2 linked regions of the Homo sapiens genome follow. The protein of the gene in region 1 purifies or fractionates together with the protein of each later gene. This does not show direct contact. Each region holds a gene or a part of one and is shown on either strand. Other genes may lie near its edges.

Region 1 (16,501 bases):
AAGCCCCCAGCATCATAGGGTCCAGTTAAGCTCCACAAAGCGCTACTAGCAACACCAAAACCACTTTCCTCAATGCTGTGTGACTTCCACAAAGAGGGGGCCGACCTGGCGGAGTCAAGCTCCACAAATCAAGAACGAATTCCACATTAAATGACTGGATTCCCTCAACAGACTCCCTGAGTGCCCAAGCCTGCTGCGTATTTGCTGAAACTGAGGGCAACCAGCGTCTGGTGCGCCTGTAAAGACATGGGAAGGGAAGCAAGGGACTGCTCCCAGGTGGTGGCCAACTCCAGGGGCTGTCCACCAGCCTTTTTTGGAATACAGAGCACAAGAAGCTAGGCAATCCAGGCCTGAAGTTTAAATTCTAGCAAATCTCCCCTTTGTGTTTAAATATTTACACAACTGCTAGAGCAAAATCCAGACTTTCAGAGGGAATTAATTCCTGAATAAGAGGCTGTAAAATGAGCTAAGTTTTCTTGCGCATCATGGATAATAAACTTCTGCACCTCTGGGGAGATGCCCACAGGACACGTGTTGTTTGGCAATAAAGGCCTCTTCCCAGGTCCAACGCTCAGCCCCAGAAAGCCAAGTGTCCTCCGCCTGACATCTCTACCACAAACGCAACGCGTGCTCTGGAAGCAGCTGCGGAAGCCACACGTGTCCTAGACCACGGTTCAGCTGACATCGTGGCTGGTGGTGGGTGAGGCAGTGGCGGCTGCAGCACGGTAATCATGACCACAGGCCGGGTGTCAGGCCACTGCGTGGCATTCAACAGCCGCACCCAGGGTACACAGTGTAGGCAGCCCCTGCACGTAAGCAGAGACCTAGGTCCTAAGACGATGAAAATGGCGTGAAAGGTAAACCTCTATTCCCCACACTAGGAAGGGAGGGGTGGGCCACAGGGCTGGACATCCTAAGCTCTGACAATTGCTATCAGGAGGTGGGGCACCAAACGCCACCCAGGGAGGGTGACCAGCTGTCCTGGTTTGAGCAGGTTTGAAGGTCACAGGTCTAAAACCTGGGCAAAACAAGATACCTGAACCCCCAGTGGTCAGCATGTATACACGGGGCAAACCGACCTTGGATTTTATTTGAAACAGGTGGCATTAAGGGGAAAAAAAAAAAAAAAAAACACAGCAAAAGCCTGTCACACACTAAAAGATGAGGCTGTGGTCAGCAAATACCTCCTGTTCCCCGGCCGGCAGCTGCCCTGAACCAGCAGTCCGGGTTTGGTTTCTTTCCCTTTCCACGACCAAGCGCTGCTGAGAGCCCACCGACGTCAGCAGCTGGAAGTTCACACGGACTCAGCTGGGCACTGGCCGAGGGGAGGTAAATAAACAGATCCGGTCTCTGTCCTGCAGCGCCGCACACAAAAACTCCCCCTAATTGGTCTGGGCACAGAAGTGCTCACTGTCTTTCCAACCTCATACTAACTCAAAGAAGAGAGTTGGCAGAAGCACAAAAATGGCAATCTGCCAATCCCATTAAATAAAAAATAGAAGAGAAGAAAAAGCACAACTGTGGTTTCAAGGGATTCCAAACATTCTCTTGCATAACAGACACACAGAGGATGGGGTGAGAAACAGCCGGGTGAGCAAGCAGGAGGAGACAGTGACGGGGAGCAGGGGACGTGCCCAGAACCCGTCCCCTGCACTCGGCAGCTCCCCACCTTCATTATAGTGTTTTTGGCTTGTGAACAAGTTTAGATCAACCTAAGTTAAAACATTTGGCTGCCCTGGTGCACGCTCAACACAGAGGACGAACTCAGCCCCATCTGAGTCCTTTCCGTTCACCGAGCTGCAGGGGTCAGGGCAGGACAGGATGTCCTCCAGCTCGCCGAGGGGTTCCCACACCATGAGAGGCAGCGTGAGGGGCCCCTTCTCTCACCTCGATTTCGGCTGGGGCAGGCTCCTTGCTGAAACACATGCTCATGATATTCCTCGCTGTTCGATAAAAAGTTGTTAGAGAAACAGACCTTCCCTGAAACAAAACAAAAAACAGTAAAGCTTCAGAAGCAAAGCTGAACCCTACTGCAAATGAGGCCAGACACCTGTCATGGGCCGCTGCCCCTTGGCGTCCCTGCGGCTGTGGGCCACCTTGTATTCTGAGTTAATGACAGGCAGAGAAGGAAGAAATATATTCTCTAAGAACCCGCAGTGCCAAGAGGAGTGGGAAGACTCCACCAAGGATCAACCCCATGAGGGCCAAATTGTTCTGCCAGGAACAGAGGCTGCCGCCCAGAGGCCCTGAGCGGACGCACAGCAGAAGCGCGGAAGGCCCCTCCAAGGCTCTGCTGAAAAAGCAGCTTGTGCTGGAGGCAGAATCCCTCAGCTGACAAAGGCTGCTGCGGGCCAGCGGAGAAGCTATCAGCAGCTATGACCTGATGGAACTCGTGACCAGGGATCCCACAGGAGAGAAGCTGGAGAGACAGAAACTGGTGCGACATCTACACCCTGAGAGTCCTTGCCATATTAACACCTGCCAGGGCAGCAGCCTTCACTGAGGTTGCGACCTGGTCGCCTTCTCTCCACAGAACCACCTGCTGTCCCCTCTGCGCCTCTTCTTCGATGCCCCTCTGTTGCCCTGTTCCCAATAACTTCCAGAATGATTTGCTTGCTTTGATAAAACAGCTGAGTCAGTTTGGGAATCCGGAGTCAGCACCTTCTTTTACCTACCACACGAAATGTGGTGCGTTTTTCAGAGGGAATCCATCTAAGACCCTTGCTATTTCTTTCTTACTTGACCGGGCACATTTGTTGCTTGAGTCCAGAAATATCTCCTGAGCACCTATGGTGTACTAGGTCAAATCCTAGGGGCTGGAGACAGAGCAGTGCATGAAACACACAAAACCTCGAGGAGCTTCCATTCAGTCTGGGGAAGACACAGGCCTCAAACACACAAATATGGGATGGGAGGAGGTGCCAGGTGTCATGTAGAGTGGGGGAGGGTGGTCAGGGAAGGCTTCCCTGCGGAGCACTGGACACCGCAGCGTCCCCCTAGAAGTGATAGGGCCACAACAGGGAGCAGCAGATGCTTTCTGCCATTGGGTCCACAGTCGTAGTCGGCATGGAGACATTGGCTTGTGCCTTTCTCTCCTGCAGCAAAGGAACTAGATGGGGTTCTAACTACAGGAACGTACTTCCATGCAAATTCCAAGCCGCTCCTGATAGTCTGTTTCTTGTAAATATAAAAAAGGAGGGACTGAATTCTGCACCAAGGCAGAGTGCAATGAGTGGAGGTGAGGATGACACCAGCAGACCAAAGTCAGCAGCCAGGACACCGGTGCCACAGAGAGTTGCGTGCTCACGGTCCCTACCCGTGGGCACACGGCTGCTGGGGGCTTCGCCATGGCCACCACGCAGAGCTCCACTATATTTCCGTGATGAAATCTAGAAATACCCTTGACGGGGTGGATTTAAACAAATCCAAACCTCTTATTTGAATCAAACATACGCTCACAGAATTGGCCTCCTTCAGTAAAAAGTAAAAACGTTGACAGTTTCTCATTTCACCAGTTGGCTATTCAGTCACAGGATTCACTGAGTGGCTTTACTTGACAAAGGCTTCTCAGTAAAACATTCAGGAAACACCAAATAAAGTTCCTCAGAGCTTACAGTCTCTGGGTCACACTTGGCAGGCTGCATCCAGCAACCCCCACACCGCATCCCCACCAGGCAGCCTTGGGCAATGGGAGAGCAGACTCAGATAAAAGGGAGCCAAACCCTCTCAGGGTCTCAGGCCAGAAAAACTGGGTACCTCTTTCCAGAGAAGTGTGCAAGGACATGAGATGCAGCCTGAGGCGGGTCTGCAGGGCCTGGACTTAAAGTGAAGCAGCAACGCCAGGAGTCAAGTCAACCCTTCCTCCGTATTTCTAAGATGTGTGATGGTATCAGAAGCCCGCATTGCCTCAACTACAAGGCCAGGCCAGAGCCTGCAGTCAGGCAGCCGTGGGCACCTGAGGGTATGGTGGTGTTTAGTGATAACCAACAGCCAATTCCCAATGCTGCCGAAACCCACTAGCCACACACTCCCACCAGGCTCACGAGGGCTGGAGCAGAGAACGCTTCCCTTCCAGTGAATCCAGAACTGGGACCACAGAGGACAAGTCTGTGCCGGGAAACTCAGCAGAGACTTCAACTTAGCTGAGCTCGGCCAGCTGGGCCCCGGGTGCCCCGCTACCCACTGGCAGGCTGGAGAAGGGAGGAAACCCCAAGCCTTGCTTCAGAGCCAGGACAGCTGGGAGAGCTGCCAAGAGGAGAGCCACGGACTCTGCCTCCCCTGCTTCTTGGAGGGGCGAGTCTCCTCAGGATGAGTGTGCTGCCGGGAGACCTGGCGGAGACAGGGAAACGCTGCATGTTTCAGTTTGCTGGTTTCTCCCCAGCTCTTCCCTCCACAGCGTGTGAATGGTGAGATTCATTTTGATGGCTTTATCAGGGATAGCTCTCCACAGAGAGGACCTGGCAACGCTGGGCTGGCAGTGAGGTGAGCGGATAGAAAACAGAGAAAACAAGCGCACAGAGTCCACTGACGGTCCAGCCAGTGAGAAGTTCAGCTGGATCTGGGCAGCTGTCGAGCACCAGGATGAAACGGAACTGGAGAAGCAGGGGAAACGAAGCATGCAGCCCAGTTACTTATCCCTGGCATATGGAGATGTGTGCACGTGCATGCAACACGCACACGCAAGCCAGTTAATGAAAAGGAAACCCGAGGCCCTAGGCAGGCGGAATGGACTCGTGGTATCTTCGTGGAGTGGACTTCCCCTCCCTCACTGGGTCTCCTGCTGCCCCATCAACGCACCCACAAGGCCCTCACTAGGTTCCTCGATATTGGACTTCCCAGGCTCCACAACCAGGAGCCAGTACATTTCTGTTTATTATGAATTCCCCAGTCTGTAGTATTTCAGCAACACGAGAGGACTAATACAGCGCTATCACCCAGCACAGTGGCCCGCCCCCTCATCACCCCAGGGAATCAGAGAACACACCGTCCAGTGCATAGCACGCTCCACTTCCTCTCTCATTCCTCCCGCACTCCTGCAGCTGGGAGTGGCTGCTCTGCGGAGGCCCCTACCTTATAGATGCACTTGTGGAAGTCATTGAGGACGCCTTTGTCCTCCTCCTCTTCCTTGACCACTTCTTTTTCCTGAGCGAAGAGTCGCCGCCGGCCAGTCTTCAACTGGGCCTGGCCCACCTCCTTGAGCTTGCTGCGGAAGCCGTTCCTGGGGGCCACGCCGTGGATGAGCCCATTCTTGGGCTCGAAGCGGGGCAGAGGGTGGAACTTGTGGTGGTCGTTCTCTGTGTGGCCTTCCAGCGGCCCCTTGCGCTTCTCCAGGATCTCCTTCTCCATCAGCACCTCCTTCTCCAGCCGCCGGTGCTCCTCTGGGGACAGGGAGTCGTAGGAGAGTAGGTACTGGCAGTAGGCCTCCTGCAGCTTGGCCAGCCGGTCCTGGGCAGTTCTGGGGATGCGCAGCATGTCTGCTAGTTTGTTCCATTTTTTGAGGTCAGTCACTTGCTGCATGCCGCCCATCTCATTAATCAGCCGGAAAAAGCAGGCCAGGTCGAGCTCACAGCCCCCTGGGACAGCGAAGGGGAAAAAAACGGGACAGTTAGTGAAAGAGACACGAACAAGATGTTCCTCATTCAACCTGTACTTCTTGAACTCCTACTATGAGCCAGGACTCTGACAGGCTCTGGGGTGAGAGTGGTGAACAGCAGACTCCCGGTCCACAGAGAGAAGGGCGTTACAAAATGATGGGTCATGACCACTTGCTACGAAGAGCAGGTGGAACGAGGGACTACCATTTTAGGTGGGGAGCGTCTGAGGAGGCAGCATTTAAGCTGGGGCTTGGCTGGAAAAGGATGCGAGCTGGCCAGACAGACATACAGGGAGGAACATCCCAGTGTACCATGTACTGGTACATGTGTTGTCACATGGAGGCGGGTGTCATGAGAAGACTAGCTCCCTGGTGAGGAGTGGGTAGGGGTCCTGGCTGCACCCACGGCCCAGCGTCACCTAGAATAGCTTTGACACATGCTTGTTACCAACTCCCAATTCCCCTTCTATAATTCCCAATGCCCACCCACTCACTCACTCAACTTCACCCATCCACCCACTCACTCACACAAAGGAAGTCTATTTTCCATCCTGCTGGATTTCCAGAGCAAAGAGCAACACCTGCGTGAGGACACAGGGCAGCACATCTATGCCTCGTCCCTCGCCCATCCAGACAGCGGGCTGCTTCTCAGTGCATAAGCTGGTGCTCAGTGCCCCTCCTGATCAGGCCACAGAGCAGCGCAAATGCACATCAAACCTGGGCAGGTTTTAACGCGCGCCCAGTGGCTTTTCTAGATGGGAATGGAGAAAGCAACCTCCCTCGGGCCAAATAAAGGAAGGGGGGTAGGGGAGATTTTCCAAAATAACCATCAACAAAATACTAAACAAAGTACAAATTAACAACGTTTTAAATCTTTAGAGTGTGGGGATATATTGTTTTTAAGTAATAAAAGGTAAAGTGTGCACGGATCCAGTCCAGGCAGGGTCGCTGCACATACCAAGCATGACAGGACCCACTAGGTGAAGCGTCTGAACCACCTCGGCAGACACAGCACACACAGAGAGCGAGTTCCCAGCACACCAGCAAGACCAGGGATGGGGACACAGCAGCCTGAATTCCACTCACACTAAATGGCAGGACAGTGGACTGATGTGGTTGTGGAGAACAGGGGAGTTGGGGTAACATCCATGAGGGAACTGTCCCCAGCCTCGACAGGAGGGACCTAAGAACTGAGACTCCACAACAAACTCCAGGTCTCACAGACTCCCAGAGTCACAGGTGGGACTCACGGTGGCTCTGGCTGACAATCGGGAGTTCTTCCTCCGAGGGCAGGTGGGTACTGTCTCAACTTACAGAGGTAGGCACCAAAACGAGTCCCCCAACCAAAACAAGTCCTCCACCGTCCGAGTGACTCAGAACACAGGTCACAGAAGGGAGGAAATCCACACTTTCATATTTCACTCTAAGTAGATTATAACGCAAGAGCACCTGAAAATCACACAGCGCTTGCAAGAATTCTTCATGGAATCCTCATCCGCTGCGATCACTCCCACTCAGGGCCTTGAGGCTGCTACGTGGCCGAGCCCCTTCCCCACCCAACTCCCGCCAGCGGCACGGCGGCTCCCTGGGACCTGCGGTGGAAGTGAACCTACACAGAGGCAGAAGGCACATCTGCTGGGGTGGATTTTAGGCTATTACTTCAAAGTTATTAAGTTTCTACCACTGTCAGATGGCTGAGCTCAGACCCCAGCCCTGAGGCCTTGCTGGGTCACAGACAGGTCAGTACCCCTGGGACAGAATGTCAGACGCCTTAGACTTCTGGGTGACGGCAACAAGCATAAGCACACCACAGGGAGGCACAGTATGGCTTTTGTCCCAGGGTAAGGGAGTCGAGGGTAAAGAAAAACCTACTCTAAACAAAAGGCGCTGTCACTACGATGTCAAGTGTGCTCTCGAGGCTCCATCATCCACCTAGCAGAGGAGGGAAACTTGGAATGTTTCCCTCCTGTCTGCAGGTCTCCAAAGGCAGGAGGACTTGGTGCGGTTCCATCACTGACTCAGTCATCCTGTGTCCCAAGTAGTCATGGGGCGTGGTCAGCGGGCGTGGGTGCACGCGTGTGCAGAGCCTGCTCCCTGCACTGCTTCCTATCACGTGCTATTCCCAACAGCAGAGCACAAACCAAGAACTCTTGCAAGTTAAGGTGACTGTCACTCAGGCATCAGTCCTGGCAGGCACCTGCTGAGGGGAACCACGAAACCTCCATCCTGCCTGGAAGCCTATCTTGCTGCCAAATCCCTGACACTTAAATGATGGCTACACGTCTCCATGCCTTTGAAAATTGAGGATCTCCAAAATGGAGGTGTGGCCTGTTTCCTCCCATGGGTCTAGACTGATGGGGTTGCAACCTTACCTGGATGCACCTCACTCCACAGAATCCACTTAGCCTTAACAAGGCAAGTTCATCCTCACCCTGTGTCCCCAGTGGCAGGACTGAAGAGAGGATGACAGGGAAGGAGGGCTACAGGGGAACCCAAGAGGAGGATCTGCCTGCAACCCACCCTGAGGAGCAAGGGTCTGCATGACAGCCCAGATATGCATTCACTAAGGATCCACTGTGACAAGTTTCCAACAGCCCCAGCCAGAGCTCAGAAAAAAGGTCTCAGAAAAAACCTGGTCTCAGAAAAAAGGTCAACAGATCCCTTGACCTGTGGCCTTGACAAAATCGCCAGAGAAACTGAAGCTCAGAGGAAGAAGAGACAAGGCTGAGCAGGATAAAAAATGGCCTACAGGACCCTAGAGGGCTATGGGCTGCATGGTGATCCCTCCAAATTCATATGTTGAAGCCCTGACCTCCAGTACCTCAGGACATGAATGAATTTGGAGACAGGGTCTTCAAAAGGGTAATTATGTTAGAAAGAGGTCAGTAGGATGGGCCCTAATCCAATGTCCTTCTAAGGAGAGGAGATGAAGACACAGACACACATAGAGGTAGGACCCTGTGAGGACACAGGGAGAAAACAGCCATGCACAAGCCAAGGAGGGAGGTCTTGTTGGTTTCGGGAGAAACCAACCCTGCTGGCCCCTAGACCTTGGGCTTCCAGCCTCTATAATCCAGTGTGGAATCCAGAGGGGCAGCGCTCCCCACTGGCCCCCCGGCCCCTGCTTTAACTCCAGCAGTTGTGGGTAGGAGGTGACAGCCCAGGGGAAGCAAGGGGCCCAGACCCAGAGTGGGGGCTCACCCCAGATCCAAGCTCAATACTTTTTTTTTTTTTTTGAGACGGAATCTCACTCTGTCACCCAGGCTGGAGTGCAGTGGTGTGATCTCGGCTCACTGCAAGCTCCGCCTCCTGGGTTCACGCCATTCTCCTGCCTCAGCCTCTCCAAGTAGCTGGGACTACAGGCCCCCGCCACCACGCCCGGCTAATTTTTTTGTATTTTTAGTAGAGACGGGGTTTCACCGTGATCTCGATCTCCTGACCTCATGATCTGCCCGCCTCAGCCTCCCAAAGTGCTGGGATTACAAGCGTGAGCCACCGCGCCCGGCAGCTCAATACCATTCTTATCCTGCCACCAACGCCCAGGACCTGGGAAGAAGGGCTGCAGGGGGAATGAGCTGAGAAGCCCACTACTCCCGAGACAGGGAAGCGGAACTGGAGCTTTCGCAAGGGAAGAGAACGTGAAGACTGTGAGGGAACTGCAGGGATCTGGGGGCAGGAGGGCAGGCACCACCCCCTGACCCCCCGCCCAGACCTACCTATGAGCGGGAGCTCGTCCATGGTGATGCCCTGAGATTTGAGGTGCTTCTTGATGCAGGCCAGCCGCTGCACGTTGGGGCCCCAGCGCCGGCCCAGCTTGTGGATGTGCTGAATCTGCGTGACAAACCGCATCTCATCGTTGAGCTTGCACTCGGGCCGCCAGTCCGGAGGGGGGATCACCCTGCACATCCCGAACTTCTCCACCTGAGCGCGGACCGACTCGATGTAGATGAGCGGATCGTGGAACTCCTTGGCGGAGGGCCTGAGGACGGGGATCTCGTCCATGGCCGCCCACCCGGCCTTGCCGCCGCCCTTCTCGGCCTTGCCCGAGTCCTGCGGCTTGTGCACGGACTCCGGTTGCGAGGTAGAACGATTTTCACAGGAGGCGCTGTCCGCCTTGCCATGTGCTTGTCTGCCTGGCGTGCTCTTCCCGGCCGTGGCCCGCTTCGGCCGATTCCTCTCCAGACTGCGCTCCGGCACTTCCTTCTTCACGTGTCCGTTCAGCAGACCTCTCTCGGCCGGGGCCTTCTTGCCAGGGCCTTCGGCGGGGCCAGCCGCCCCTTTCATCTTCTTGGGGGGCGACTGCGGCTTCTCCGCCTGGTGTGCCTCTTCCAGTCTCCTCTTGGAGTTCCGCAGCCCCTCCCGCAGCTGCAGGCCCTCCCGCAGCTGCCGCCCCCCCACCTCCTTAGTGCATGACTTTGGGTTCAACCTGCCACTGACCTTGAGGCCATTGACGGCGGGCCCAGTGGACTTGGACGCCCCCCCGAGGGATAGCACCTGTTTGCGGGTTTTTGCATTGCTACTTTCAGTTTTCCCTGAGATTGTGTGGTTGACAGCGGAACTGGGCTTGTGGTGATTGGGTTTGGTGTCCTTGACCAGTTCTCTCTTGGCTTTGGTGTATGTGACAGCCCCCTTCGTCACCGTGGCAGTGTACTTCACAGTTTTGGATGGTGAAGGTCTGACCTCGCGCATCTTTTTGGCACTGGTTACACCTGCACCCAGAGATGACATTCGAGTGACTCCGTTTACCTTAGAAACCTGTGGAGCAGCAGAAGCAGAGGTGGAAAAAAACGCAGAATTAGTACCTGCCACTAAAATGACCGGCCCACCCGTGAGAAAGGACCCTGGATGCTGGGGATGAACAGAGCCAGCAGCCTGTAGTGTGATAAGAAGAGATGTGGAAATACCAGCAAAGAGAAGCAAAATACACATCCAAGAATTAAGCAGCGATGTCCACTTTCAGAATCCACTATATACCTATCCTTCGTCACAGAAGTATGCAAACTGCCCCAGGCGCTTCCTAGCGGGGTTTCCTGGGTGCATTTTCACGTTCCCATTGCTCTTCCAGGAAATTTGGTGTTTCACAATGAAGACCTCCCCACGTGCCATGCAATCACCTGTCCTGAGCTTCTCAGAGTTGATGACAGCAAGATCCTGCTTCCTTGGGGGAAGTGGAGACAGACACACACACATATCCCTGTTCCAAGAAAAGTCATGTCTGCTATTTCTGTGCTCCACATAGCAGCATGACCTGCCCACAGGATTTAGAAATCTATGGCTAAAAAAAGAAGGAAAACAAAAATACTATGGAAGCAAAAGAACAGCAGTGCTCATGTGGTTTGGCTCCGGGTGGCAGGCCAGGCCCAGAGGTGTGGCTGCAAACTGTCAGCAGCTGCTGTCTGCTTTCCTTGTGGAGACGAGCCCTGGACAGGGCCAGGCTGGATGGAAGAGGGATGCCCCGACCTCACTGTTGAAGCAACACATGCCAACCCTCGTCTGCACACGCGCTTCCTATATTTTCCCACCGTTTACAAACTGTCCCATGTATCTTCCACCCTGGACAAACTTTCCCATCAGGTTCTATGGGACCTGGGCAAACAGAGACAGTCTTACAGCTTGGACGCCGTGGTAATCTTGGGACACACAAACGTCAGCGAAAATGGGGAGCGACAATGGCAGACACTAGAAATGCACAAGCTTCAAACAAGAATAATGAAGGGACCCCAATGGGCTGCTGCCAGACATGCTGGTTTCGAGAAGATGTCTTCTCTGCGTCACAATGTGGCCACTGCCCCATCACTTAACACCTTGGGCATTACTTTTCGTCTATGATATGAGGTTAAAGTCAGGGACTTCAGGGTTTTATAACCACCACCATCTCCAAAGGAAGAAGCCTAAAAATCACAAAATTACTGAGAAACACAGAATACTAGCCCCCTCTTCTCCCCAACAGCCCGAGAGGAAGGTGCCAGGGTCGGGGGAGCCTGCACTTCCTGGTCAGGAGAGCTGGCCACATGCAGTGATGGCCCAGAGGGTACTGAAACACCAGTGCCACCACAAGGCTGTGCAGGCTGCTGTCACATGGGGACGAAGGTCCCCAGATGGCGGGTAATGAGTCTTAGTGACCTTTGTACTAAACCTAGGCCTGGCCCAGGACCCCCCTTAAGTGGGGGTGGGGCATGGAATGAAACTTCCCAAAGGCGCCTGTAATCCCAGCACTTTGGGAGGCCGAGGCGGGTGGATCACAAGGTCAGGAGATTGACACCATACTGGCTAACACGGTGAAACCCCGTCTCTACTAAAAATACAAAAAATTAGCTGGGTGTGGCGGTGTGCGCCTGTAGTCCCAGCTACTTGGGAGGCTGAGGCAGAAGAACGGCGTGAACCCAGGAGGTGGAGTTTGCAGTGAACCGAGATCATGCCACTGCACTCCAGCCTGGGCGAGACTCTTGTCTCAAAAAAAAAAAAAAAAAAAAGACTTGCCAAAAACATCCAAACCAGTGGCTCTCAGCATCCCCTAGAGGGCTGATGTAAACACATCACTGGGCCCTACCGGCAGAGTGTCCAAGTCAGAGGGTCTGGGATGGGACTGAGAATGTGCATTTCTAACCAAGTCCCAGGTGATGCTGTGTGCTGACCTGGGGACCGCGCTTGGAACCACTGAATGAAGTATCAGTGAAGTTTATAAAAATCAAAAAGGAAAGAAGCCACTGAGACCTGTATTTCTCTATATGCCACCAATTAAGTGCAGTCCAATCAAAGCCACAAATTCTTGGTAGGACATCATCTCTTAGGAGCCAGGCCCATGGAGGCCTCATTCCTAGAGCCAGATCTCAGGCCCCATGAAGAGGCAGAAGCGAAGACCCAGGAATCACACTCTGGCTCTTAAACCATGAGTCACCCATAAAAAAAGTGGGACTGACAGACGGTCTGGAATAAATAATGCGAAACCCTTTTGGAGAGGAAAAAAAGCACCTGGCAATGATAAATTTAAAACAGATTTATAAAACCAGGGGTAAGGACAAACAGAAATATTCCGTGGTAAGTACTGTTAATCTGCAAGAGGAGGTATAGTGAGGAATGCAAATCTCTTAGTTTTAATTGTTCTTTCAAATGCTTCCACTAAAACCAAAACAAGACAAAACATTTAGAAAAACAAAAGCAAACAGTAAACTCCAGCTGGGGCTGATCTTTATTTCCAGCAACAAAGGCTGGTGGGGCTGGGTGGGGGTGGGGGAATGGGCCTCAGGGAATCCAGGACCTTGGGGAAGGGCTCTATCTCAGGTTCAGACAGCAAAAGACAACACCTCTACAGTTGGCTCAATCTCCTTTTAACCTGTAGGGGTGCAATCTGTTTCAGCCCTACTCCCAGCACAAGAGTCTCCTTAAGGAGACGGACACAGTGCGGCTTCGTATATCGCTAATCAAAATGGCAAACTCCAGATGGTGCCGGACATAACCCAACTCCTGTGAGGTTCAGGCATCAGCCACCACTACTTGCTGAGGTTTAGTTCAGTGTTTTCCAAACCTGGCACCCCTAAAACCCTTAGGGGAGCTTCAAAATAATGTAAATCCCTTCCCTCTAGATTCTGTGCTAATTGGTGAGGATCAAGAAAGGGAATCAGTGTTTAAAAGCCTCAGATGTCTCAGTGTTCCCACAAATCCGTGGACCCTACCCTTCCCTAACACCGCTGTCCAAATACCAGAGTGCTATGTCTCTCATATTCTATCTCAAATAAGAGTGTAAGGCCTTTGGTTCCATCCATTCTGGCTTCTCGGGGGCACCTGAGTTCATGGCTAGCAATGCTACAGGGAAGTAAATTTTCAACACAGCTGAATTCTATATATCACTATCTTCAATGGCAAAAGGAACACCTTGTTTACATCTTTCTGAAAACCTAAATACTGAATTATTGGCAAGGTATACATTCAAATAACTTGCTTTATGAGAGAAATGAGTTGCAATATTTTCCTTCTTATTATAGGAGTTATCTTCAACAGTATCCACCCAGATATCACACACGCATGCCCATATAACAAGCTCAAAGACTAGATGGATCTCACCCACAACACAGACCAGCGAAGTTCAAACAATTACGAAGACTGAAAAAGGCAAGTGTCACTGGCCATCTTCCTCCTCGAAACCCAGAGGGTCCGTGTTCTATGCCCACCACGAGAGGCCACAGGGGAGCTGAAAAGCTAACATAGGAAGCCCCTTAAGCTGCTCCATGTGTCCTAAAAGGGAGAAATAAAACAGAACCAACAACCCAGCCAGCACCACCATTGTGGGGAAACCTGGGACCCACCAATCTAACAAAAGGACACCCCTTTTCCTGGCCTGGACTTGTCTATAAGGAGCCAACACTTAATCAGTACAAAAGGAAACAGAAGAATGGAGGAAGGCATTGTCTTACCTTGTTACCGAAGGTCTCCCTCAACCCACCTCTGTATCAATTAAAACCACACAGCCCCAGTTATGCAGCCAGTGCACTACAAGGAAGGCCACCGCTGCACGTCCTGAGGGATTCCACAGAAGAGCACACACAGGAAGTCATCTGAACTCACTGAAGAATTAGCGCCGACGTGGGCTACAGCAGGACCCTCCATTGAATGACAATACATTTCAGCTGAGCAGCTTTATACATAAGTGCTTGAAGTTACTCCTTCTCTCAGCTCTGTTGTGGATTTCTGGCTTCTCAGCCCATTGCCCCCAGCCCCCAACCCAGCTCTGCAGAAAGTGAGGTGTCTGCAGCGTGTGCTCCTTGGCCCACAGCCATCCGTCACCTGTATCTCAGGTGATCCCAGGCACACGGCCATGAGATATTAAAGCAATCCCTCCTAGTCATAAGAGAATGGTTTCAATTTAACAGGCAAGGTTGAGAGCATTTTCAAGTTACGTTCGGCCAGATGAGTACTGGCAACAATACCTCATTCTTCTTGCAGAAGGGATATAAGGTGAGAGATATGAAAGTCCAGGACATCAAACGTTCCTACCTGACTTTGTTCTTAATAACAGAAATTCCATCTTAAAAACTGTACCCAATCCACACTCTGTGTGCTTGCTTTAAGAATATAAAATCTCTCCCCTCCATCCTTATGGGTTTTTCTCCACCCCACCACCGACACACACAATATTTAAATCAACTCAGTATGATGACAGATGAAAAGGAGAAACATGCACTTCCAAGGCAGAGCAGAAGATGAGAAATGACTCTGATGTTTTTGGTTAACTAAGCAAAAATGTTTTAGTCGTTCAAGATTATGACGCTGTCCTCAGTTCAACCTCAGATTCACTGGCAAGTTCTTCTTCTCCACGAGAGGGAGCCGTTGAGCCGAGGCCTCTGCCAGCCTTTCAAAACAGAACCAGAGGCCCAGAGAGAGAAACAGTTGGTGGCTGGGGGTAGTCCATTTGCACTTTAAAACTTGAATCAAAAACAAAGAGCCTAAACAGAAGCGAAATGCACTGGACAGACAGTGAGTTATGGAAGGGGAGGAGCAGCCTGCTCAAACACTGACCGCAGCAGCAGATGGGCAGGAGCCTCCTAGCCAAGGCCAAGGCCAAGGCAAATGTGCTCTAAAAGAGATGCCTGGGTTCCACTGGGCAATCTAGATGTACCTATAACCTCTCCTCCCACTGAAGGCAATGTAACTGAGTCACAAATACCCCACCACCAGCAAGTGCAATTCAAATGACAAAATAATGTCATGAGAAGAAAACCTTTAACTTTTTTAAAAACTAATATGATTTTCTATGTTTCCTTCTCAATAGCCGTATTTTCCAGAACTTTAAAAGAATATTCTCAATTCCTTGGCCCTCTCTGAATCTTACTAGGGCAGGATTTTTCTGCAAGGCTTGTACATTTTCATATGAAAACCTCTTCAGTGACAGTAGCCTATAGCTCAATGGAAGGTCCTGCAAAACCAGTGGGATTAGCCAGTTGATCATTTTCTTCTCACACTCAGCCTCAGCGTAAGAAATGAGAATCACATGTGGCCACATCTGGTTCAATATCCTGGCTTACAAACCACACAAATTTCTACACAAGTACAAAACCTGCTCATGACTCTCTTGGAAAACTAATACTTCAAAACCCTTGCTAGAAATAAAGCTCGTCTGTTGGACTATCCTAAACTTGTTACTTTCTGTCACTGCATGTAAGCAGAAGTACTACTGCAGGAAAGCAACAGAAAAACACCATTTGCTCCTTGGTGAGACCCTTACCATACAACCAAATTATTACCCAGGGGCACTCCCAGCCCCATGACAATGCAATGTTATACAGGCATGTGCATTCCATGACAAAGACAGCTCATTTGGTATAATCGAGAGTAAACGGCCGGGGCCAGAGCCCTCTCACCAAGAAAAAGGCTTAGGTGAAGTACGCACTGGTGTGTTCTAACTCTCGGGTTCTAGGGACTCCATAAATCGCACACACTATCAAATGGCATTGCCCAGTTCGCACGAGGGGAAGTGGTTTTAGACTTGGAAGACAGGTGCATGCACCCACACAGTTCATTATAGCAAGCAGAGCAAAGGCACTTCTCGGCAGCACCCCCTAAAAATTACATTCCTCCACATTTCAATACAGTCACATTTATGCTTTTAAGCTGAACAATAACAAAAAAAAATCCACATATCATATTTGAAATGAAAGATCAGAGTATCCTCTGGGCCCATATCTTTCATGCAGTTGAAAAGATGAAAGGTCACAGTCTAATCACTTGTATCAAGCAGTCACAAGGGAATCTACAATTTGCTTTTACTGACCTTATTTTCAGAGTACTTAACTAATAGGATCTGAGGGTTTGAAAATTTTCCTTTTATTTCTCACAATGTCCCTGGTATAAGGAGTTGGCCAGACTGGCTCCAAAGGAATAATAGGGCCCAGGAAGGTTAAATATCACATCTCA
Region 2 (16,501 bases), on another chromosome or scaffold:
CTAAAATAAAAAATACCATTAAAGTTTAGCCAGCCTCATCATATGTAAAATTATAATTCAAAGTTCAGGGATAATAAATGTGGATAACTGCCTAGTTGTGCAATATATATTCCTACGCAAAATGCCATAAAAAATCTCAATCAACTTATATCATTACAAAATTTTTTCTCTGATCTGGTGGCAAGAGGAAGGAAACTCCACATTTTAGATAAACTAAAATCACAACCTTTGTTCTATTTTGTTTCATTTTTGAAGATAAATTTCTAGAGCAGGCGCTTTAGTCTATATTACGTATAACAAGAATTGCTGAGGCAGGAAGATAACTTGACCTCAGGAGTTCAAGGCTTCAGTGAGCTATGTATGACTGTACCATTGCACTCCAGCCTGAGCAAGGGTCTCTTAAAAAAAAAAAAAGAGAGAGAGAGACTCTCCTGTCCTGTCTCTTAAAAAAAAAAAAAAAAAAAAAGAAAGAGCTGATGTTCAAAATGACTAAAGTACTCCAAGGTACTCAATTATAAAATATAAACATTATATTTAGCATACACTACTTCCCATGTTTTGAAAATAATTAATGGCATTTTATAAGATTTGGAACAAGAATATAAACAAAAGTAAATTTTTGTTAACCTAAATTTGGATTAGTGACAAAATTCAATTTGTAATTCATTTTTAGTTTATCAAAAATTTTCTATTCAAATAATTTGGAATGACCCATTATTTATGTTACCTTTTTATTGATCACTACAAACATTTGAAAGTAATCTAAATGAAAAACACTGAATAAACATGATAAACTAGCATAAATTTTATCATCTCTTTATTATTAAAAACTCACCCTAAAATCCAATTATAATTACAGTACAAAAATATAAAATACAGAAAATTAGAAACCTTAACTTCAATCTGTCAGTTACCAAAGTCTGTGAATGAGATGTCTCATCTAAGAAGTCTGAATATTTTCTTATTTTAATCCACAGAAAGAACAGTAAGAAATTATTAGTCTCTTGTTTTAGTAATAAATTTGATGGTCAAAAAGTGGAAATAATTTGCAAAACTTTTTCTTTTTTTCTAAGACATTACCTCATAGGCTACAGAAATAAAAACATGTATTATTACTGAAGCAAATTTTTTCTAGTATGTTTCAGAAGTTCAGTTGGAGCTGGGACACCCAAAATTCATAAACTGAACTCTTTTCTTGAAAAATATACTAAATGTGATTTTCATTTTCTTATATTTCCAGCCTCTCAAATAAAATCTAAACACTAAAATTTAAATTTTAATTAAAAAGGACAGCATTTGAAATAAACACAACTTGAGTTTTTATATTATATATACCCAATGTCTACATCAAGTTACTACTGCAGAATTTCATCATGTAATGCAGACAATGTACTAACAGGTATACATATGTATCTGCATATGAAGTGCTAAAAGAATAATGGCTAGAAAGAATTTTTAAACAAATGTATTATAGTATTAAATATTAAGATAATTATAAAAACCACTATAGCCACTTCTAATGCCTTACCCCTTACTTTCTGATTACTAATCAGTTTATTAAAATTTATCAAATGTGGCCATGCCCAGTGGCTCATGCCTGTAATCTCAGCACTTTGGGAGGCCAAGGTGGGCGGATCACTTAAGGTCAGGAGTTCAAGACCAGCCTGGCCAACATGGCAAAACTCCATCTCTACTAAAAATACAAAAATTAGCTGGGTATGGTGGCAGGTGCCTGTAATCCCAGCTACTTAGGAGGCTAAGGCAGGAGAATGGCTTGAGCCTGGGAGGCGGAGGTTGCGGTGAGCTGAGATCACGCCATTGCACTCCAGCCTGGGTGACAGAGCAAGACTCCGTCTCCAAAAAAAAAAAAAAAAAAAAAAAAAATCAAATGTACACATCACTCACTTTCTCTCAGACTTCATCTAAAAAAAAAGTATTTAACAGAAAACTTAACAAAAATTTGTATGATAATCCAATATCTAACATTCAAAACTCAAATGATGAATTCAAAAATTCATCAATTGAATTTCAATAATATCCTAGATTTTAAAACTACAAACTAAATCATGCATTATGTTCTCCCTGATATCCCATAAACCCCCAAAAAGCCCTTTGATATCCTATTTGATATGAAATAGGATGTCCTTCGTGTCTCAAAGCTACAAATCAAGAAATTCTTCCTAAACTTCAAATCAGTGTGCAAAATTTTTACCTAAAAAAAAGCATGACTAAGATATACATATCAAATTCCATATTATAAAACAAATTTTTTAGTTTTAACTAAAAGTAGTTAATATATGTACTTTAGTAATTCTAAATAAAAGCTAAAAATAAGGTCCCTAACTATTAAACTTATTCTAGTTACTTTTCTCTTTCTGCTATTCATTAGTTTCAAAATTTTCTTTAATGAACACACATTACTTTTAAATTCATTTAAAAAAAGACTGTAAACCAGCATAGGTAGTTACACTTCAAAAATGAGAAGCAAAATGAGATGTCAGAATGAGAGGGGATAATTTTCTATTCAGGCAGCTTCACTCTACAACTCATTTTTCTAACAATATTATTAGATCCCACCATTCCTACAAGTCAGAAATATATAAAGGAGTACCAACAAGAGAGGAAGGAAGAATGTTGGTTATATCTCTAAGTTTATAGAAAACTTAGAAGAAAAGGAGGTTGAACTACAAGTAAGATACCCAATACTAAAGATTTCTCCCTCCCTTCTATCTTTAACTACAATGACTTTCACTTCAGAAAATGAAAGAATCAAATAATATACCTCCTCCTTCTACAAATTTCCAGAGTCAACAGGCAACAAACACACAGGAGGATGAGAAGGCTGGTCCTGATATCCATACCAAACTTATTTGTCCCCAGAACTAAAAATAAAATTCTATTTTAGTTGTCTGACTTATACATGTGTCTCAGTTGTTTTTTGAAAAACAAAACAAAACAAAAAAGACATCAAGTAGCTACTGAAGTTAGTTCTCAGACCACCTACCTCTCCAGGGTGCAATCTATCCCAGTTTTCATTAATGTATGTCATAAGCTCAAGTTCAGAATCAAAGTATTTCTTCTTATGAATAACACTTAGGTTGTAAAGGCATAGGTGTGCTATATCTACCCTGGAATCCGAAAATAATCAAATACACAAAACAATGTTTTTGGTTACTGTTAAAAAATCACGGTTTCCTTATAAAACAGTAATTAAAATGCAAAGAGAAATATTTAGGTGGATAGTCATATTCACAATACAATAAATCACTACACATAAAAATAACTAGAAAATAGTGACTAAACATTCACTTATTCTGAATAGCAACTATAAACTAGAAGATATATGAATTACTTCTTTTTTTTTTTTTTTTTTTTCTTGGAGACAGAGTTTCGCTGATTGCCCAGGCTGGAGTAGTACAATGGCACAACGTCAGCTCACTGCAACTTCCGCCCCGTGGGTTCAAGCGATTCTCCTGCCTCAGCCTCCCTCAGCCTCCCGAGTAGCTGGGATTACAGGCGCCCACCACCACGCTAGGCTAAATTTTTTTGTATTTTTAGTAGAAACGTGGTTTCACCGTGTTGGCCAGGCTGGTCTTAAACTCCAGACCTCAGGAGATCCACCCACCTCGGCCTCCCAAAGTGCTGGGATTACAGGCGAAAGCCACCGCACCTGGCCACAAATTACTTCTTCAAGTGCATTCAAAGAGGGTCTGGCTTTAAAAAAATATAACTTAAAATCAAGATTTTTGTGTTTTCACTTCCGGATATAAGCTACAGAATATACCATACTTAACCAAACTATTTGATTCATGGGTTAAATCCTATCTGTTGATAAAATATGTAAAATACAACAAAGATTTGTAAGTACTTACTGTAAGCATTTTATTAGTAAACCTCTAAAATTCATCACACTTCCAACACACAAGAATTACTACATTGAAGCAGAAATTAGCATATTTGTTATACCTATCTCTCTTCTACTGTATGGTATTCTGAATGTTCAAAAGAACTAGAAATATGAGTAAGAATTTAGGTCTAAAGGATATCTGAAAGTTTCATTTATAACATTCAACACTGAACAGCCTTATTAATTTAGCAATACAAGTGGATGTTACTTAGTGAAGATGACATCAGGCATGAGGATAAATAAAAGAAATAAAGCCAAGCATAAATAACCTATTTTTACTTAAGCCAAGTAAATGTATATAGAAAGTTTCAACTTGTAGGTTTAAGAAAATGGCTTTTCTTTCTTTTAACAGAAAGGTCCACACTTACCACTGTAATGGTAGACGTTTGAGGTATTCTGGTCCAGAACTGCAGACAGAGCATATAAACGTATAAAATCTAAGAAAAAAAAAAAAAAGAAAAAGTTTTATACTGAGTCATCAGAGATAAACTAACAATTATAGCTAATATTCACCAAGTGAATAACCTACAGCTGATATAAAGACTGATACTCAAAACAAAATATAATTTAAATTATAATGCTTTCTGTGATTGAAGGAAGTTCTTTTCCAATAACAAATAATGAAACAGTTCATATGTGAAGAGAAAGGATCTTTGTTTTTAACCATTGGAGACCTTCAAAGTTCACACACAGACTCACACGTACTTATAGTTTACTAATCGCTTGTGTGTGCCAGGAATTGTGATGGCTGCCCCCACATACATAGTTTAATTCAACGCTCAAAATAACATAATAAGCCCGAAAGAGACAAGTGAACTTCCCTAAGGTCAGAAAGAAAATTAAGTGGCATAAGCCAAGATTTTTAAAACCAGGTTTTCAGATGTCAAACTTAGTGGTCTAGCTTTTTGTTCCTGGAGCTCACTGTGCTACCCTGCATTCTTCTAATATAGAAAGTACATTAAGTCTGCTTTTACAAATTTTTCATATCTAAAGTATAGTTGTGTCTTTAACAAGGCCCTGTGGTCTTTTCCAATTCTAATACTATCCCTTTGAGGTTCTTTAAAGGAAGGTACCAATGAGAATACTTTAGAGTACTATGGGTCAATAGGAGCAAATGTAATCACTGACAATACTTAAAAGCATTCTGGAATAAAATCCAAAAGCACAAAAATTACGTATATTTTAAGTATATTATTTAATATTTTCCCTCTGAGACAACCCCTTTCCAAATCACTGTTGAAACTATCTTTAGGAAATCTGAAATCACAAATATAACCACAATTAAAAAGTGACAAAAATCAGCCAGTAAAGTTCAAATGCCCTTCTCACCTGTCTCCAAATAGCATTGGCTTTTGAAGGCATTGCACACAAGCCTCATGAAACCACTGCTTACATTTGCAGCACTGTAGCATCTTCAAATACCAGCTATTAAAAAAAACAAAAAAGTTAACACTAAAATTCCTGTCTTAAGGGAAAGGTTCATTTCTTTAAAAAAAAAAAAAAAAAAAGTGGCCTAATCCACAATACTGTTCTAATTAAAGCATCACATTTCTACTATACTTACTGTAAATATTTCCTTTCCCAAAAAGGCTTATAGTATCAGCTATTTCATCCCTCTTCTCTCTTTTATTCATGAAATTTTATAAGCTCTTGAAAGATACACTACTACTTCTAGTCAAAAATGCCTGGCTCCTACACTAGTCAAATGAGCTCTGTTAAAACACAAGCCTAGGCTATTTTTTTTTAAAGAGGCAAGTATTGCTATGTTGTCCAGGCTGGAGTGCAGCAGCATGACCATGGCTCATGCAGCCTCAACCTCCCAGTTCAAGTGACCCTCCCACCTCAGCCTCCCAAGTAGCTAGGACCACAGGCATGCACCACCAAGCTAGGCAAATTTTTTTTTTAAGTAAAACTGAGGTCTCCCTGTGTTGCCAGAGCTGGTCTCCAATTCCTGGGCCCAGGTGATCCTCTGTCCTCGGCCTCCCAAAATGCTGGGATCACATGCGAGAGCCACCATGCCAGGCCTCTGGGCTTTTTTTCACATCAACTCTCTAAACCCCAGGAGAGGTCAGATTCAGAGGTACTGTTGTTTGCCCCAAATATCAAATGGCCTTAGGCAGCTTTCAGATTATAAACATTCCACTTCATATCTTTACTGTGTTTCTATTATTCTTGTCAGCTATAATAAAAAGAATATAACGATTTAATAAACCTGCTTAACATTATCATAAATCTAATCTAAGACTCTACCAGGTATAAAGGCTTTTTGACAGGTTTAGCTATATTTCAATGTATGGTCTATAGATCTGTTTGAGAAAGCTAAAGATGCTAAAATTGAATCTTCATCTAAGAAATATATCTTCTCTTTTCAGTTAGCACATGGATTTTGGGTTTGTTTTAAGAGACAGGGCTACATTGCTACATTGACCAAGCTGGACTTCAGGGTTCAAAGGATCCTCCCACCTCAGCCTCCCAAGTATCTGGCAGTACAGGTACACACCACCACACCCAGCTAGTATGTGGTTTTGATATGGTTATCTTTATTTGAAAATAATAAAAGGCACCATTTCCAAACTTTGATACGGTTATCTTTATCGGAAAATAATAAAAGGCACCATTTCCAAACAGAGCTATACCTTGATTCAGTCTATTAGCACTATTTTTCTAGGTTCATGTGCTCACCTTATGTCTCTGTGTCACATTTTGGAAATTCCCATAATATTTCAAACTTTTTCATTATTATTAATATTGTATCTTTCATGGTGATCAGTGATCTTTGATGTTACTACTATAACTATTTTGGGCCACCAAAAACCGTGCCCACCTAAGATGGCAAACTTAATCACTAAATGTTGCATGTGTTCTGACTACTATCAACCAGCCAGTCCCCATCCCTCTCCCTCTCCTCAAGCTTCCTATTCCCTGAGACACAATATTGAAATTAGGCTAATTAATAATCTTACAGTGGGGGCCAGGCGTGGTGATCATGCTTGTATTTCCAGCACTTTGGGAGGCCAAAGCAGGAGAATCACTTGAGGCCAAGAGTTGGAGACCAACGTGGACAAATAGCAAGACTCCATTTCCACAAAAAAACTTAAAAAACTAGCAGGGTGTGGTGGCGCATGCCTGTGGTCCTACCTACTCAGGAGGCTGAGATGGGAGGATTGCTTGAGCCCAGTTCAATGCTGGAGTGAGCTATAACCATGCCACTGCACTCCAGCCGAGGCAACAGAGCAAGAACCTGTCTCAAAAAAAAAAAAAAAAAAAATCTTACAATGGCCTCTAAGTGTTCAAATGAAAGGAAGAGTCACAAGTCTCTAAATTTAAATCAAACGTTAGGAAGGTATGTCAAAAGCCAAGATAGGCCAAAAGCTAGGCCTCTTGCACCAAACAGCTGGCCAAACTGTATATGCAAAGAAAAAGTTCTGGAAGAAAATAAAAATGCTACTCCAGGCCAGCATGGCTCAGGCCTGTAAACCCAGCCAGCTTTGGGAGGCCAAGGTAGCAAGAACCTGTCTTTACAAAAAAAAAAATACTTTTTAAAATTAGCCAGGTGTAGTGGCACGTGTCTGTGGTCCTAGCTACTTCGGAGGCTGAGACAGGAGGATAACTTGAGCCCAGAAGTTCAGTGCTGCAGTGAGCTATGATCATGTCACTGCACTACAATCTGTGCCCTATCACTTTAAGAAAGAAATGAAAATACGTAGAAGAAAGCAGTAATCTATCTGTGAAAAAGTTCCATGTTGATTTTATGTCTTAAAAAACTTGTCTTTTACTCTCCCATTTAAATTATAATATTAAATATACCAGTTTCTAAATGGTCAATCACATTAAATATGACATCCAATGAAACTACTGATACTGGGCCCCTGCAGTAAATGTTTTCCCTCAATAGTTAATTTTATGACAATATTTATAATTCACTTTAAATTTCCAGAATATAAGACTTATACAAATATTTTAATGTGTGGATATGATCAAAAACTAGATGAAAATTATTTTTTTATGAAAATAATAGATTTTCCCCCTGGTTTTCTTCACTGATGTGTTCATGCAGTTGCAATTCACCATCACTCACACACCATAATCAAGAAAAATAGATAAGTAAATAAAAATTACTTAAAGGGAATTACATAACTGTATTTACTTACTCTCCAGGGCCTCCACAATAGCAGTAACACTGCTGGACATTGGTTTTATGACCTGCATCCCATTCAAGGTCTGCCACACTATAGGGTAATGTCTGCTTCATGACTTGCAATGCTTTGGCATTTGGTCCTTTCTTAAGTGCACCACCCCTCTACATTAGAGGGAAAAAAATGTGAAAGAGTGAAGGCTAAAATTTTAAACACAATTCTATACTTTAAAAACGACTCTGACACTTCTGGAGAAATTTCCTTTCCAAACTTTTACCATATCACAAACTGTCTGATTAATAATAATCTCTATTTTTCTTTTCTTCTTTCAAATTACTGCACCAATTCCCGTATTACTATCATCAAATAAGTGAAAGCATCATTAAAAAGTCACTTAAGCATCATTAGTCAAATAAATAGCACCTCTTTCTACCCAGCATTCATTGCTCATTTCATTCCAACAAACTTTCAGTGTACACAATCATTATGTTGATAATGTCTTACAAATTCCATCAGAGCTTTAGCCCAAAACACTTAAAATATACCTTTGTTGTTGTTGCAAAAACACACTGCCGACAGAGCCATTTTTCATCTGAATCAATCACACTGGAATCAATATGAGGTGTGTGACACAACTGATGATATCCTTAATATCAAAAAAAGCATAAAGCAAATTCGGTTTCATTAATACTTTCAACACAATTTCAAGAATGCATTTTAGCATTATTTCCTACATTAATATAATTAATAAAAAGGATAATTTCAAATTATCAATGTAAAGTATTTTTAGTCATTAATCTTCAACATAGTCATTCAGTATGTAACAAGATTAAAAGAAATCAATGGTTACCTTGGCCACACTTGTCACATATAACCATTTCATTGGGAGCTTCTGAATACTCTTCTTGACATATTGTACAGACCATTTCCCCACTTCCAGTGGCTCCTAAAATATTTAAAACACATTAAAAAAGAGAGTCATAAAAAATTCCATAAAACAAAACCACTTTTATGACTCAGTGAGCAGCACATATGCGCAATGTTTGCTAAGTACATCATAATGCTTCACAAGACAAAGTACACGAATGGTATCTCTCTGCTCTCTGTGTTCTTTCTACCTTTAACTTAACATGCCTACTTTCATAATTTAATCTGCTTTTTGGCAGAAGGCATAATTTAAATTGCTCTTGAGCATCTTCCCTTATTACTCATTTCTCATATTCCCACTCTTAAAGGTGAAGGTGGAGATGAGGGATGGGCGACAGCAGATAGAGAAGGTTTGTGAACACTAGAGCTACTTTATAGAATACTTATCTATTCATGTACATACATTCACTTATCCTACACCACTAATACCATGAAATTAAAGAAAAAAAGTAAGGAAGATAAGTAAACTACCTCTTTCTCGCTCAATTCAGAGCATTTCCTTTTACTTACTAATTTATTAAACAGGTTGAACACCAATTATTTAATCTCTAGCTTCTGAAATCTGAAAATATGGTATCCAATAATGTACCCTAACAAAATATCATTTCAACAAAATTTGGGGGTCCCAAAATTATTAATTTTTTTTAGCAGAACAAGTGAAGCATTTCTTCCTGAGACATTTTTATTCTCAAAAAAAAAAAATCACACAAAATTTCTAATACAATTTACCACCCTAACACATTATCATTTCCAGTATTCTCATCTTGTCTGTTTCAGCAGAGTCAAATTCACAATACACAGCCTTTATATACATAACAACAATAAAAACTTATAATTTTGTGCTATGGGCCAAGCACTGTGTAGGATCTTGATATATTTTGTTTAATTCTACAACTAACTTATAAATATACTATTTATAGAGAAGAACTGAGGCTCAGACAAAGTAACTAACCCAAAGACCCTGAGAAAACATCAAGACTAGGATTCAAATCCAGATGTGCCAAAATCCATGTTCTCTCCACTACGAGATGCTTCATCAATACTATGTAATATTTCTTCTATCAAAAGCATTTTTCACTCAAAATTGAAAATGAAAATCATTTTTCATTTCAAAATTGTAACTTCTAATAGCTGCATAGTATTACATCTAGTGGAAATAACCCAATTTACTTCATTATTACTCTACTCTCGGACATACAGGTTACCAACTGTTTTTCTTTTTTTGGAGGGGGAGAAATCTGTCTTTTGTATTTCTGCTATTTATTTGTTTGTTCTGGTCTCTCATCCTCTCTCTTCTGCTTTGTTTGCTTCCTTTTATTTTTCCCCTCAGATAGGGTCTTGCTGTGTCATCCAGGCTGGAGTGCAGTGGCACAGCCACAGCTCACTGCAGCCTTGACTTCCCAAGCCCAAGCAATGCTCCCACCTCAGCCTCCCAAGTAACTGGAACCACAGGCGTGTGTGTCACCATGCCTATTTTTTTTTTTTTTTTTGTAGCGACAGGATCTCCCTGTGTTGCCCAAGCTGGTCTCAAATTCCTGGGCTCAAGCAATCCTCCTGCCTGGGCCTCCCAAAGCACTGGGATTGCAGACATAAGGCACTGCGCCCAGCTGTTTGCTTCTTGGTACACTTCGTTGAAGGTGGTCTCCCATAGCTTCTGGGTTTATGGTTCCGATCATGAGAGCAACCAGATTAAGCCTGGGAACTCTCTGTGAAAATTTACAATTCCCTGGAAATGGAACAACAGCCCCGCGAGGGGAGGTGCCTGACCTGACTCTCACTGTAACTACCTGGACTAATGATGGGGAAGGCAATTCCTCAGAAAAGGGGGTAGTGACCCAAGAAACAATCCTGAGAAAGCTGGGAATTAACTTTTACTTGTGAAATCAAACATATATGTATATATTTTTTACCATCAAGTTTACAAGAACCTTCCTATATAGCTTAGTAATCTTCTATAGTCTCCTTTACTCTAAATCCAATTGACTAGAAAGCCTTGGCCATTTCATCTTAGAAATACCAAATTTTTTGTTGTTGTTAAAATAAACTTCAGGAAACATTTTTCACCTAGTATTTTTTGAATTACTTCTTATGAATAAACTGCTAGAAAGGAGTCTATTAGATAATTATAAACTTCTGCATTTAATGCAAATGCTAAACCACCAAAATAGAAATTTACACTGCCACCAGCAATGCAAGAGTATATCATTTCACAGAAACCAAAACAGCATTAGATGCTAAGATTCAAAACCCTCTTACATTTATGTAATAGTTGTAACATGATATATTTCACCCTGTTGACTACTAATATTTTTCTTTATGTAAAATTTTTAAAAGAAACTCATTAGACAAATATAATTTATTAAGTTTTGATATACATTATTGGCAGATTTCTTACAGGGAAGAAAACTACTAAACCCACTCCTCACTGAAATATGCCATAACGCAGGTTTCAGATTCATTTATTCATTTTTATAGCAACTATAAGTTTCATATGTGCTAATATCAGGGTGCTAAGAAGAGTTAAATGACCAGGAGCAATCCTTTGTAATTCCAAGAACAGCAAAAGGAACCAGTGAAGAAAGAACAACCACAGAACATTAAACTGACATACTGAGTGCAGGACTTATAGAACCCCTCACACAACAACTTTCTATCTCTATGTAACATTGGTTTTCTTCTTTTCTACCACTTTTAAAAGCAGAGGAGAAGTAGAAAGGAGGAAGTAGACAAAAGGACAGACAGACCTATTACATTAAATCCACAGGAAACTCCAAAAGATCTTCAAAAGCTGAAAGAAACACATAGCTAATGGAAGGGGAGTAAAAAGCAGCATAACATGTTTCACTGCTATTACAGAGAGACCTATGTTTACAAAATAAGGAAAAAAGAATAATTTTGTGTGCAGGGTAGTAAGATCTGCTCAATATTAGTAGTGTTGGAGATCTCCTATCCCTTTAAATCTTATGAGTCACACTTTTCTCTGGCTCCTCAATTTCAGATTCAAAATGTAATTTTAGTCCTTTAAACTTATCAGTCCAGGAACCATAAAAAGTTTCTCCAGAAAAACATTTTACCAGAGTAAAAGCTACTTAGTTCCCCACCTAAGCCCTGAGTACCAACTATACAGATGGTAATTAGAACATTCCAATTCCTTTACCAAAACTTTTTTTATTCTTTAAGAAACATTAAGAGTAAAGTCAAGAACTAAAACATGGCAGAAACCTACCATAAAATTGAACTTGGTATTCAAATATAAAACCCAATTGTTAAATACTTTGGCAAGGTGTCTACCCTTTAGGGAGAAAATTTATCTCTTTTCTATGAGAATACACAAAACACGGGTCTTAGTGTAGGCCTATTAACCCAGCAAAAGGAAAACCAAAAGTAGGGCTTTAATGAACAGCTAAAATACTCAGGCTTTTAGTAGAGATTGTAATTTTTAAAAGTACTTTGCATGAAAGAGGTACCTGGTAAAACATCTATATTTAGCAGATGCTAAAAGCATGAAACAATCATGGTTTCTAATAATAGAAATCATCACAAGAAGCATACCTATAACCAAACCAAGGCATACTTTCATTCATTTTTATTGGCACACAAATATAGCCTCATTTTCCCATTTAAACATAAAAAACCCATAACTAAATGGTAATTTTAAACCATTCTTATTAACGAATATTTCTATTATTCTAAATCAGTTTTATATGTCCTAATTTCCCAAATCATCTGACAAACAGTATGCTCCCAATAAACACTTGCTTTCTACAAATATAAGCAAGCAACAGTTGAATTGAATCCCAAACCGTTACTGAGATTAGTTACTAAAGATTTTTCTTCAAAGTTCTTAGAAGGGTCTTAACATAGCTTACAGGTATAAATTAGTGATGCATCTGTCCTCTAGAGTATTCTTGTTCTTCTTATGGTCTATAATAACGACTATGCTGATTTTTTAACCTCTCCTAGGAAGTAATACTGAGTTATCTAAATACACTGTATTCAACAGACAACATCATAATATGACAAGTTGAAGAAAATCAAATTTTAATTTAAATCATGTTCAAGAGAAATAGTAGCACCTGCCTGTTTGAATGTCCTTCCAGAGAACCCAGGATTTAGAACTGTCTTCAAATATGATGAAGCAGCTCTGTTTCAATATGTTTATCTGCAATACAGAGAAATACTTAACGGTGATCTCTTAAAATTAAAAACATGAAGTTAAATTTAAGATTATTAAATGCTTACTGCAAAAACAGCAAAAGATACATTAAAGTAACTTGCCTTTTTGATAGTGCCAAGATAAAACAAGCCATCTGACCATCTAGCTAGGACATCCTGACCCTCTTCAAATTTACATGCTGGCTTTTTGGCTTTATGTCCATCCTGTAAAGACAGCTTGGTCAAGGATGTTGGGGTCTTTTGGTTTCGACGTAAAGGAGACCGCTTGTGGACCAGTGAATTACCTGCCCCTGTAGAGTCTCTGTTTAGAGAATAAAAGACCATACATAAGACTTACTTGTAGAGCTTATTTTATACCAGTGGGATATTTTATATGTTAATCAAAGTTTTAAATTTGTTAAAAACCTTAAGACAAAAATATAAAAAGTACCTCAAATCATAAATACTCTCCAAACAAAGCAGTTTAAAACAAAATGATAACAATTCTCAATATCCATTCATTGCCTACTCTAAGTGAGGCCAAGACTCAGCAAACACTCCAAGATAACACATTCAAGGCAGCTGCCATCAAAATAACAGCTTTATGTTGAGGTATGCAGGCCATGATCATGAGCAAATAATGTCTTGAATCTCATGACTGGGTTTAGGTAAAGAATAAAAGTGAATTACATTTTAATCTCTTGATTATGCCACATGCAGTTAAGACACATTAACCAGTGACTTCAAGGGACAGCTGGTGTTATTCACACTCTTCACACTCAAAGGAAGGGCAGTCATGACCTTCTCCTTACAGGGAATCACCACTGAATTGAGCAAATATGCAGACTGAGAGTTTAAAAAAAAAAACATTGAGAACCAGCAATTTCATTACATTATAGACAAATAGTACACTATAAGGCCAGGTGCGGTGGCTCATGCCTGTAATCCCAGCTCTTTGGGAGGCTGAGGCGGGTGGATCACCTGAGGCCAGGAGTTCAAGACCAGCCTGGCCAACATGGTGAAACCCTGTGTCTACTAAAAAATACAAAGATTAGCCGGGCGTGGTGGTACACACCTGTGATGCCAGCTACTGGGGAGGCTGAGGCAGGAGAATCATTTGAACCCAGGAGGCGGAGGTTGCAGTGAGCTGAGATCATGCCACTGCACTCCAGCCTGGGCAACAGAGCAAGACTCTGTCTCAAAAAACAAAAAAACAAAAAAAAAGGAAAGTACACTATAAGAGTACTTAAAGGAAAAAAATATATATTAAATACTGTGAAATTACATTATAACTTATGTATCAGACATTCCATAAACAGCAAAGCATACCACCATCAGCTTTCTTAAAGGTAACAAAGCAGTGTTTGGTTTCACTTTTCCAAATTAGATTTTTCACTAATTAAACATACAGTGACATGTAAAACTAGATAATAATTCTAAAAACAGCATAAAAGTTTAGTAAAAATAAAATGAGCAGGGAAATTAAAGAAAAAAGTTTCAAAAAGTTCCTAAGTATTAGGAATATCTAACTTCAATATCTAAAAATACAGAAATTCTGGGAAACCCTGTCACATGCTCAAACACGGATGAACCTTGAAGACATTATGCTAAGTGAAATAAGCCAGACAAAATGGACAACTATTCCACTTATATGAGGTGCCTAGACACTCAAAGTCATAGAGATGGAAAACAGAATGGCGGCCAACGGCTAGGAAGAATGGGGAATAGGGAGTTAGTGTTTAATGGGTACGGAGTGTTTCAGTTTGAAAGAAATACATTTTAGAGATATCCAAAGAAATAACTGGTACCTTCCCAAATTTGCTGAAAAACATTATCTACACATCCAAGCAGCTCAACAAATTCCAAGTAGGATAAATGCAAAGAGATCTACACCCAGCCACATCATAGTAAAAATGCTGAAAGGCAAAAAAAAAAAAAAAAAAAATCTTGAAAGCAACAAGAGAAACACAATATATCACGTACAGGGAAACCCCAATAAGATTAACAGTTGACTTCTCATCAGAAACAATAAAGGCCAGAAGGCAGTGAGATGACATATTCAAAGTAAGCAGGCTGCAGGGAGTGGGTGCTGTCACCAGAGAATCTTATATCCAGCAAAACTGTCTTTCAAAAATGAAGGTGAAATACAAACTCCCAGATAAACAAAAACTGAATTTGTTATTAGCAGAGACATCTTACAATGAATACTACTACGATTGAAAGTAAGTAAACCCAGAAGGAAATTCAAATACATGTACATACACATACACACACACACACACAAAGAATACCAACAAAAGTAATTATAAAAGACAGCATAAATGCATATTCCCTCCAAAGCAAGTATATAAAACAATATGTACATAATTGTATTGTTAGACCCATAATATATAGAAATGTAATATATTTGGCAATAATAGCATAAAGGAAGTATGTAGGAGCAAAACTGTTTCAACTGTTTCAAAGAAATGACACAGGCCAGGTGCAGCATGGCTGACGCCTGTAATCCCAGCACTTTGGGAGGCTGAGGCAGGAGGACCCCGAATTCAAGAGTAGCCTGGGCAACAAAGGGAGAATGTCTCTAAAAAAATTAAAAAATAAAAATTAGCCGGGCATTGTGGCACGTGCCTGTGGTCCCAGCTACTCAGGAGTCTGGGGTGGGAGGACTATATGAGGCCAGGAGGTCGAGACTGCAGTGAGCTGTGATTGTGCCACTGCACTCCAGCCTGAGCAACAGAGAGAGAACCTGTCAAAAGAAAAGAAGAAAAGAAAAGAGAAAAATGGAAGGAAGGACAGACACAAGATGCTAACTTGAATTCACAAGAACAAACGAAAAAAAAAATGGTAATTAAGGTCAATATAAAACGTAGATTGTCACTTCAAGAAAATACCTGCCTTATACAGAACTAAGTGGCTGTTTCAAGTAAAAATGGTGTTCCATGAAAAAGCTGCTAGTTCAGCTGGCAACTCAAACAATGGCACAAGTGCCTTATGCCATTTCTATTTTATCACACATATTAAAAACCTGGCCAGCACGGTGGCTCATGCCTGTAATTCCAGCATTTTGGAAGGCCGAGGCAGGTGGATCATTTGAGGCCAGGAGTTCAAGACAAGCCTGGCCAACATAGCAAAACCCCCCATCTCTACTAAAAATACAAAATTAGCCAGGCATGGTGGCGCGTGCCTGTAATCCCAGCTACTCGGGAGGCTGAGGCAGGAGAACCGCTTGAACCTGGGAGGCGGACGTTGCAATGAGCCAAGATTACACCACTGCACTCCAGCCTAGGCAACAGAGCAAAACTACATCTCAAAAACAAACAAACAAACAAAAAACATTCTTAAGTGAAATAAGGTTTGGGGGTACGTGTGTGTGTTT

The links.
Region 2: the proteins of JARID2 (region 1) and MTF2 purify together in Homo sapiens (affinity purification with mass spectrometry; 3 studies listed by BioGRID and IntAct, with this or other methods). This does not show direct contact.

The regions. Positions count from the first base shown.
Region 1 is NC_000006.12:15,489,979-15,506,479, reverse strand, and holds part of JARID2 (protein Jumonji), read right to left. Parts: exon of another isoform or gene 10,568-16,501; intron 10,349-10,567; coding exon 9,310-10,348; intron 5,574-9,309; coding exon 5,071-5,573; intron 1,981-5,070; coding exon 1,888-1,980; intron 1-1,887.
Region 2 is NC_000001.11:93,107,176-93,123,676, reverse strand, and holds part of MTF2 (metal-response element-binding transcription factor 2), read right to left. Parts: intron 13,448-16,501; coding exon 13,249-13,447; intron 13,133-13,248; coding exon 13,051-13,132; intron 8,990-13,050; coding exon 8,894-8,989; intron 8,690-8,893; coding exon 8,589-8,689; intron 8,208-8,588; coding exon 8,059-8,207; intron 5,333-8,058; coding exon 5,237-5,332; intron 4,345-5,236; coding exon 4,276-4,344; intron 3,129-4,275; coding exon 3,005-3,128; intron 1-3,004. UniProt on the Homo sapiens protein: Polycomb group (PcG) protein that specifically binds histone H3 trimethylated at 'Lys-36' (H3K36me3) and recruits the PRC2 complex, thus enhancing PRC2 H3K27me3 methylation activity.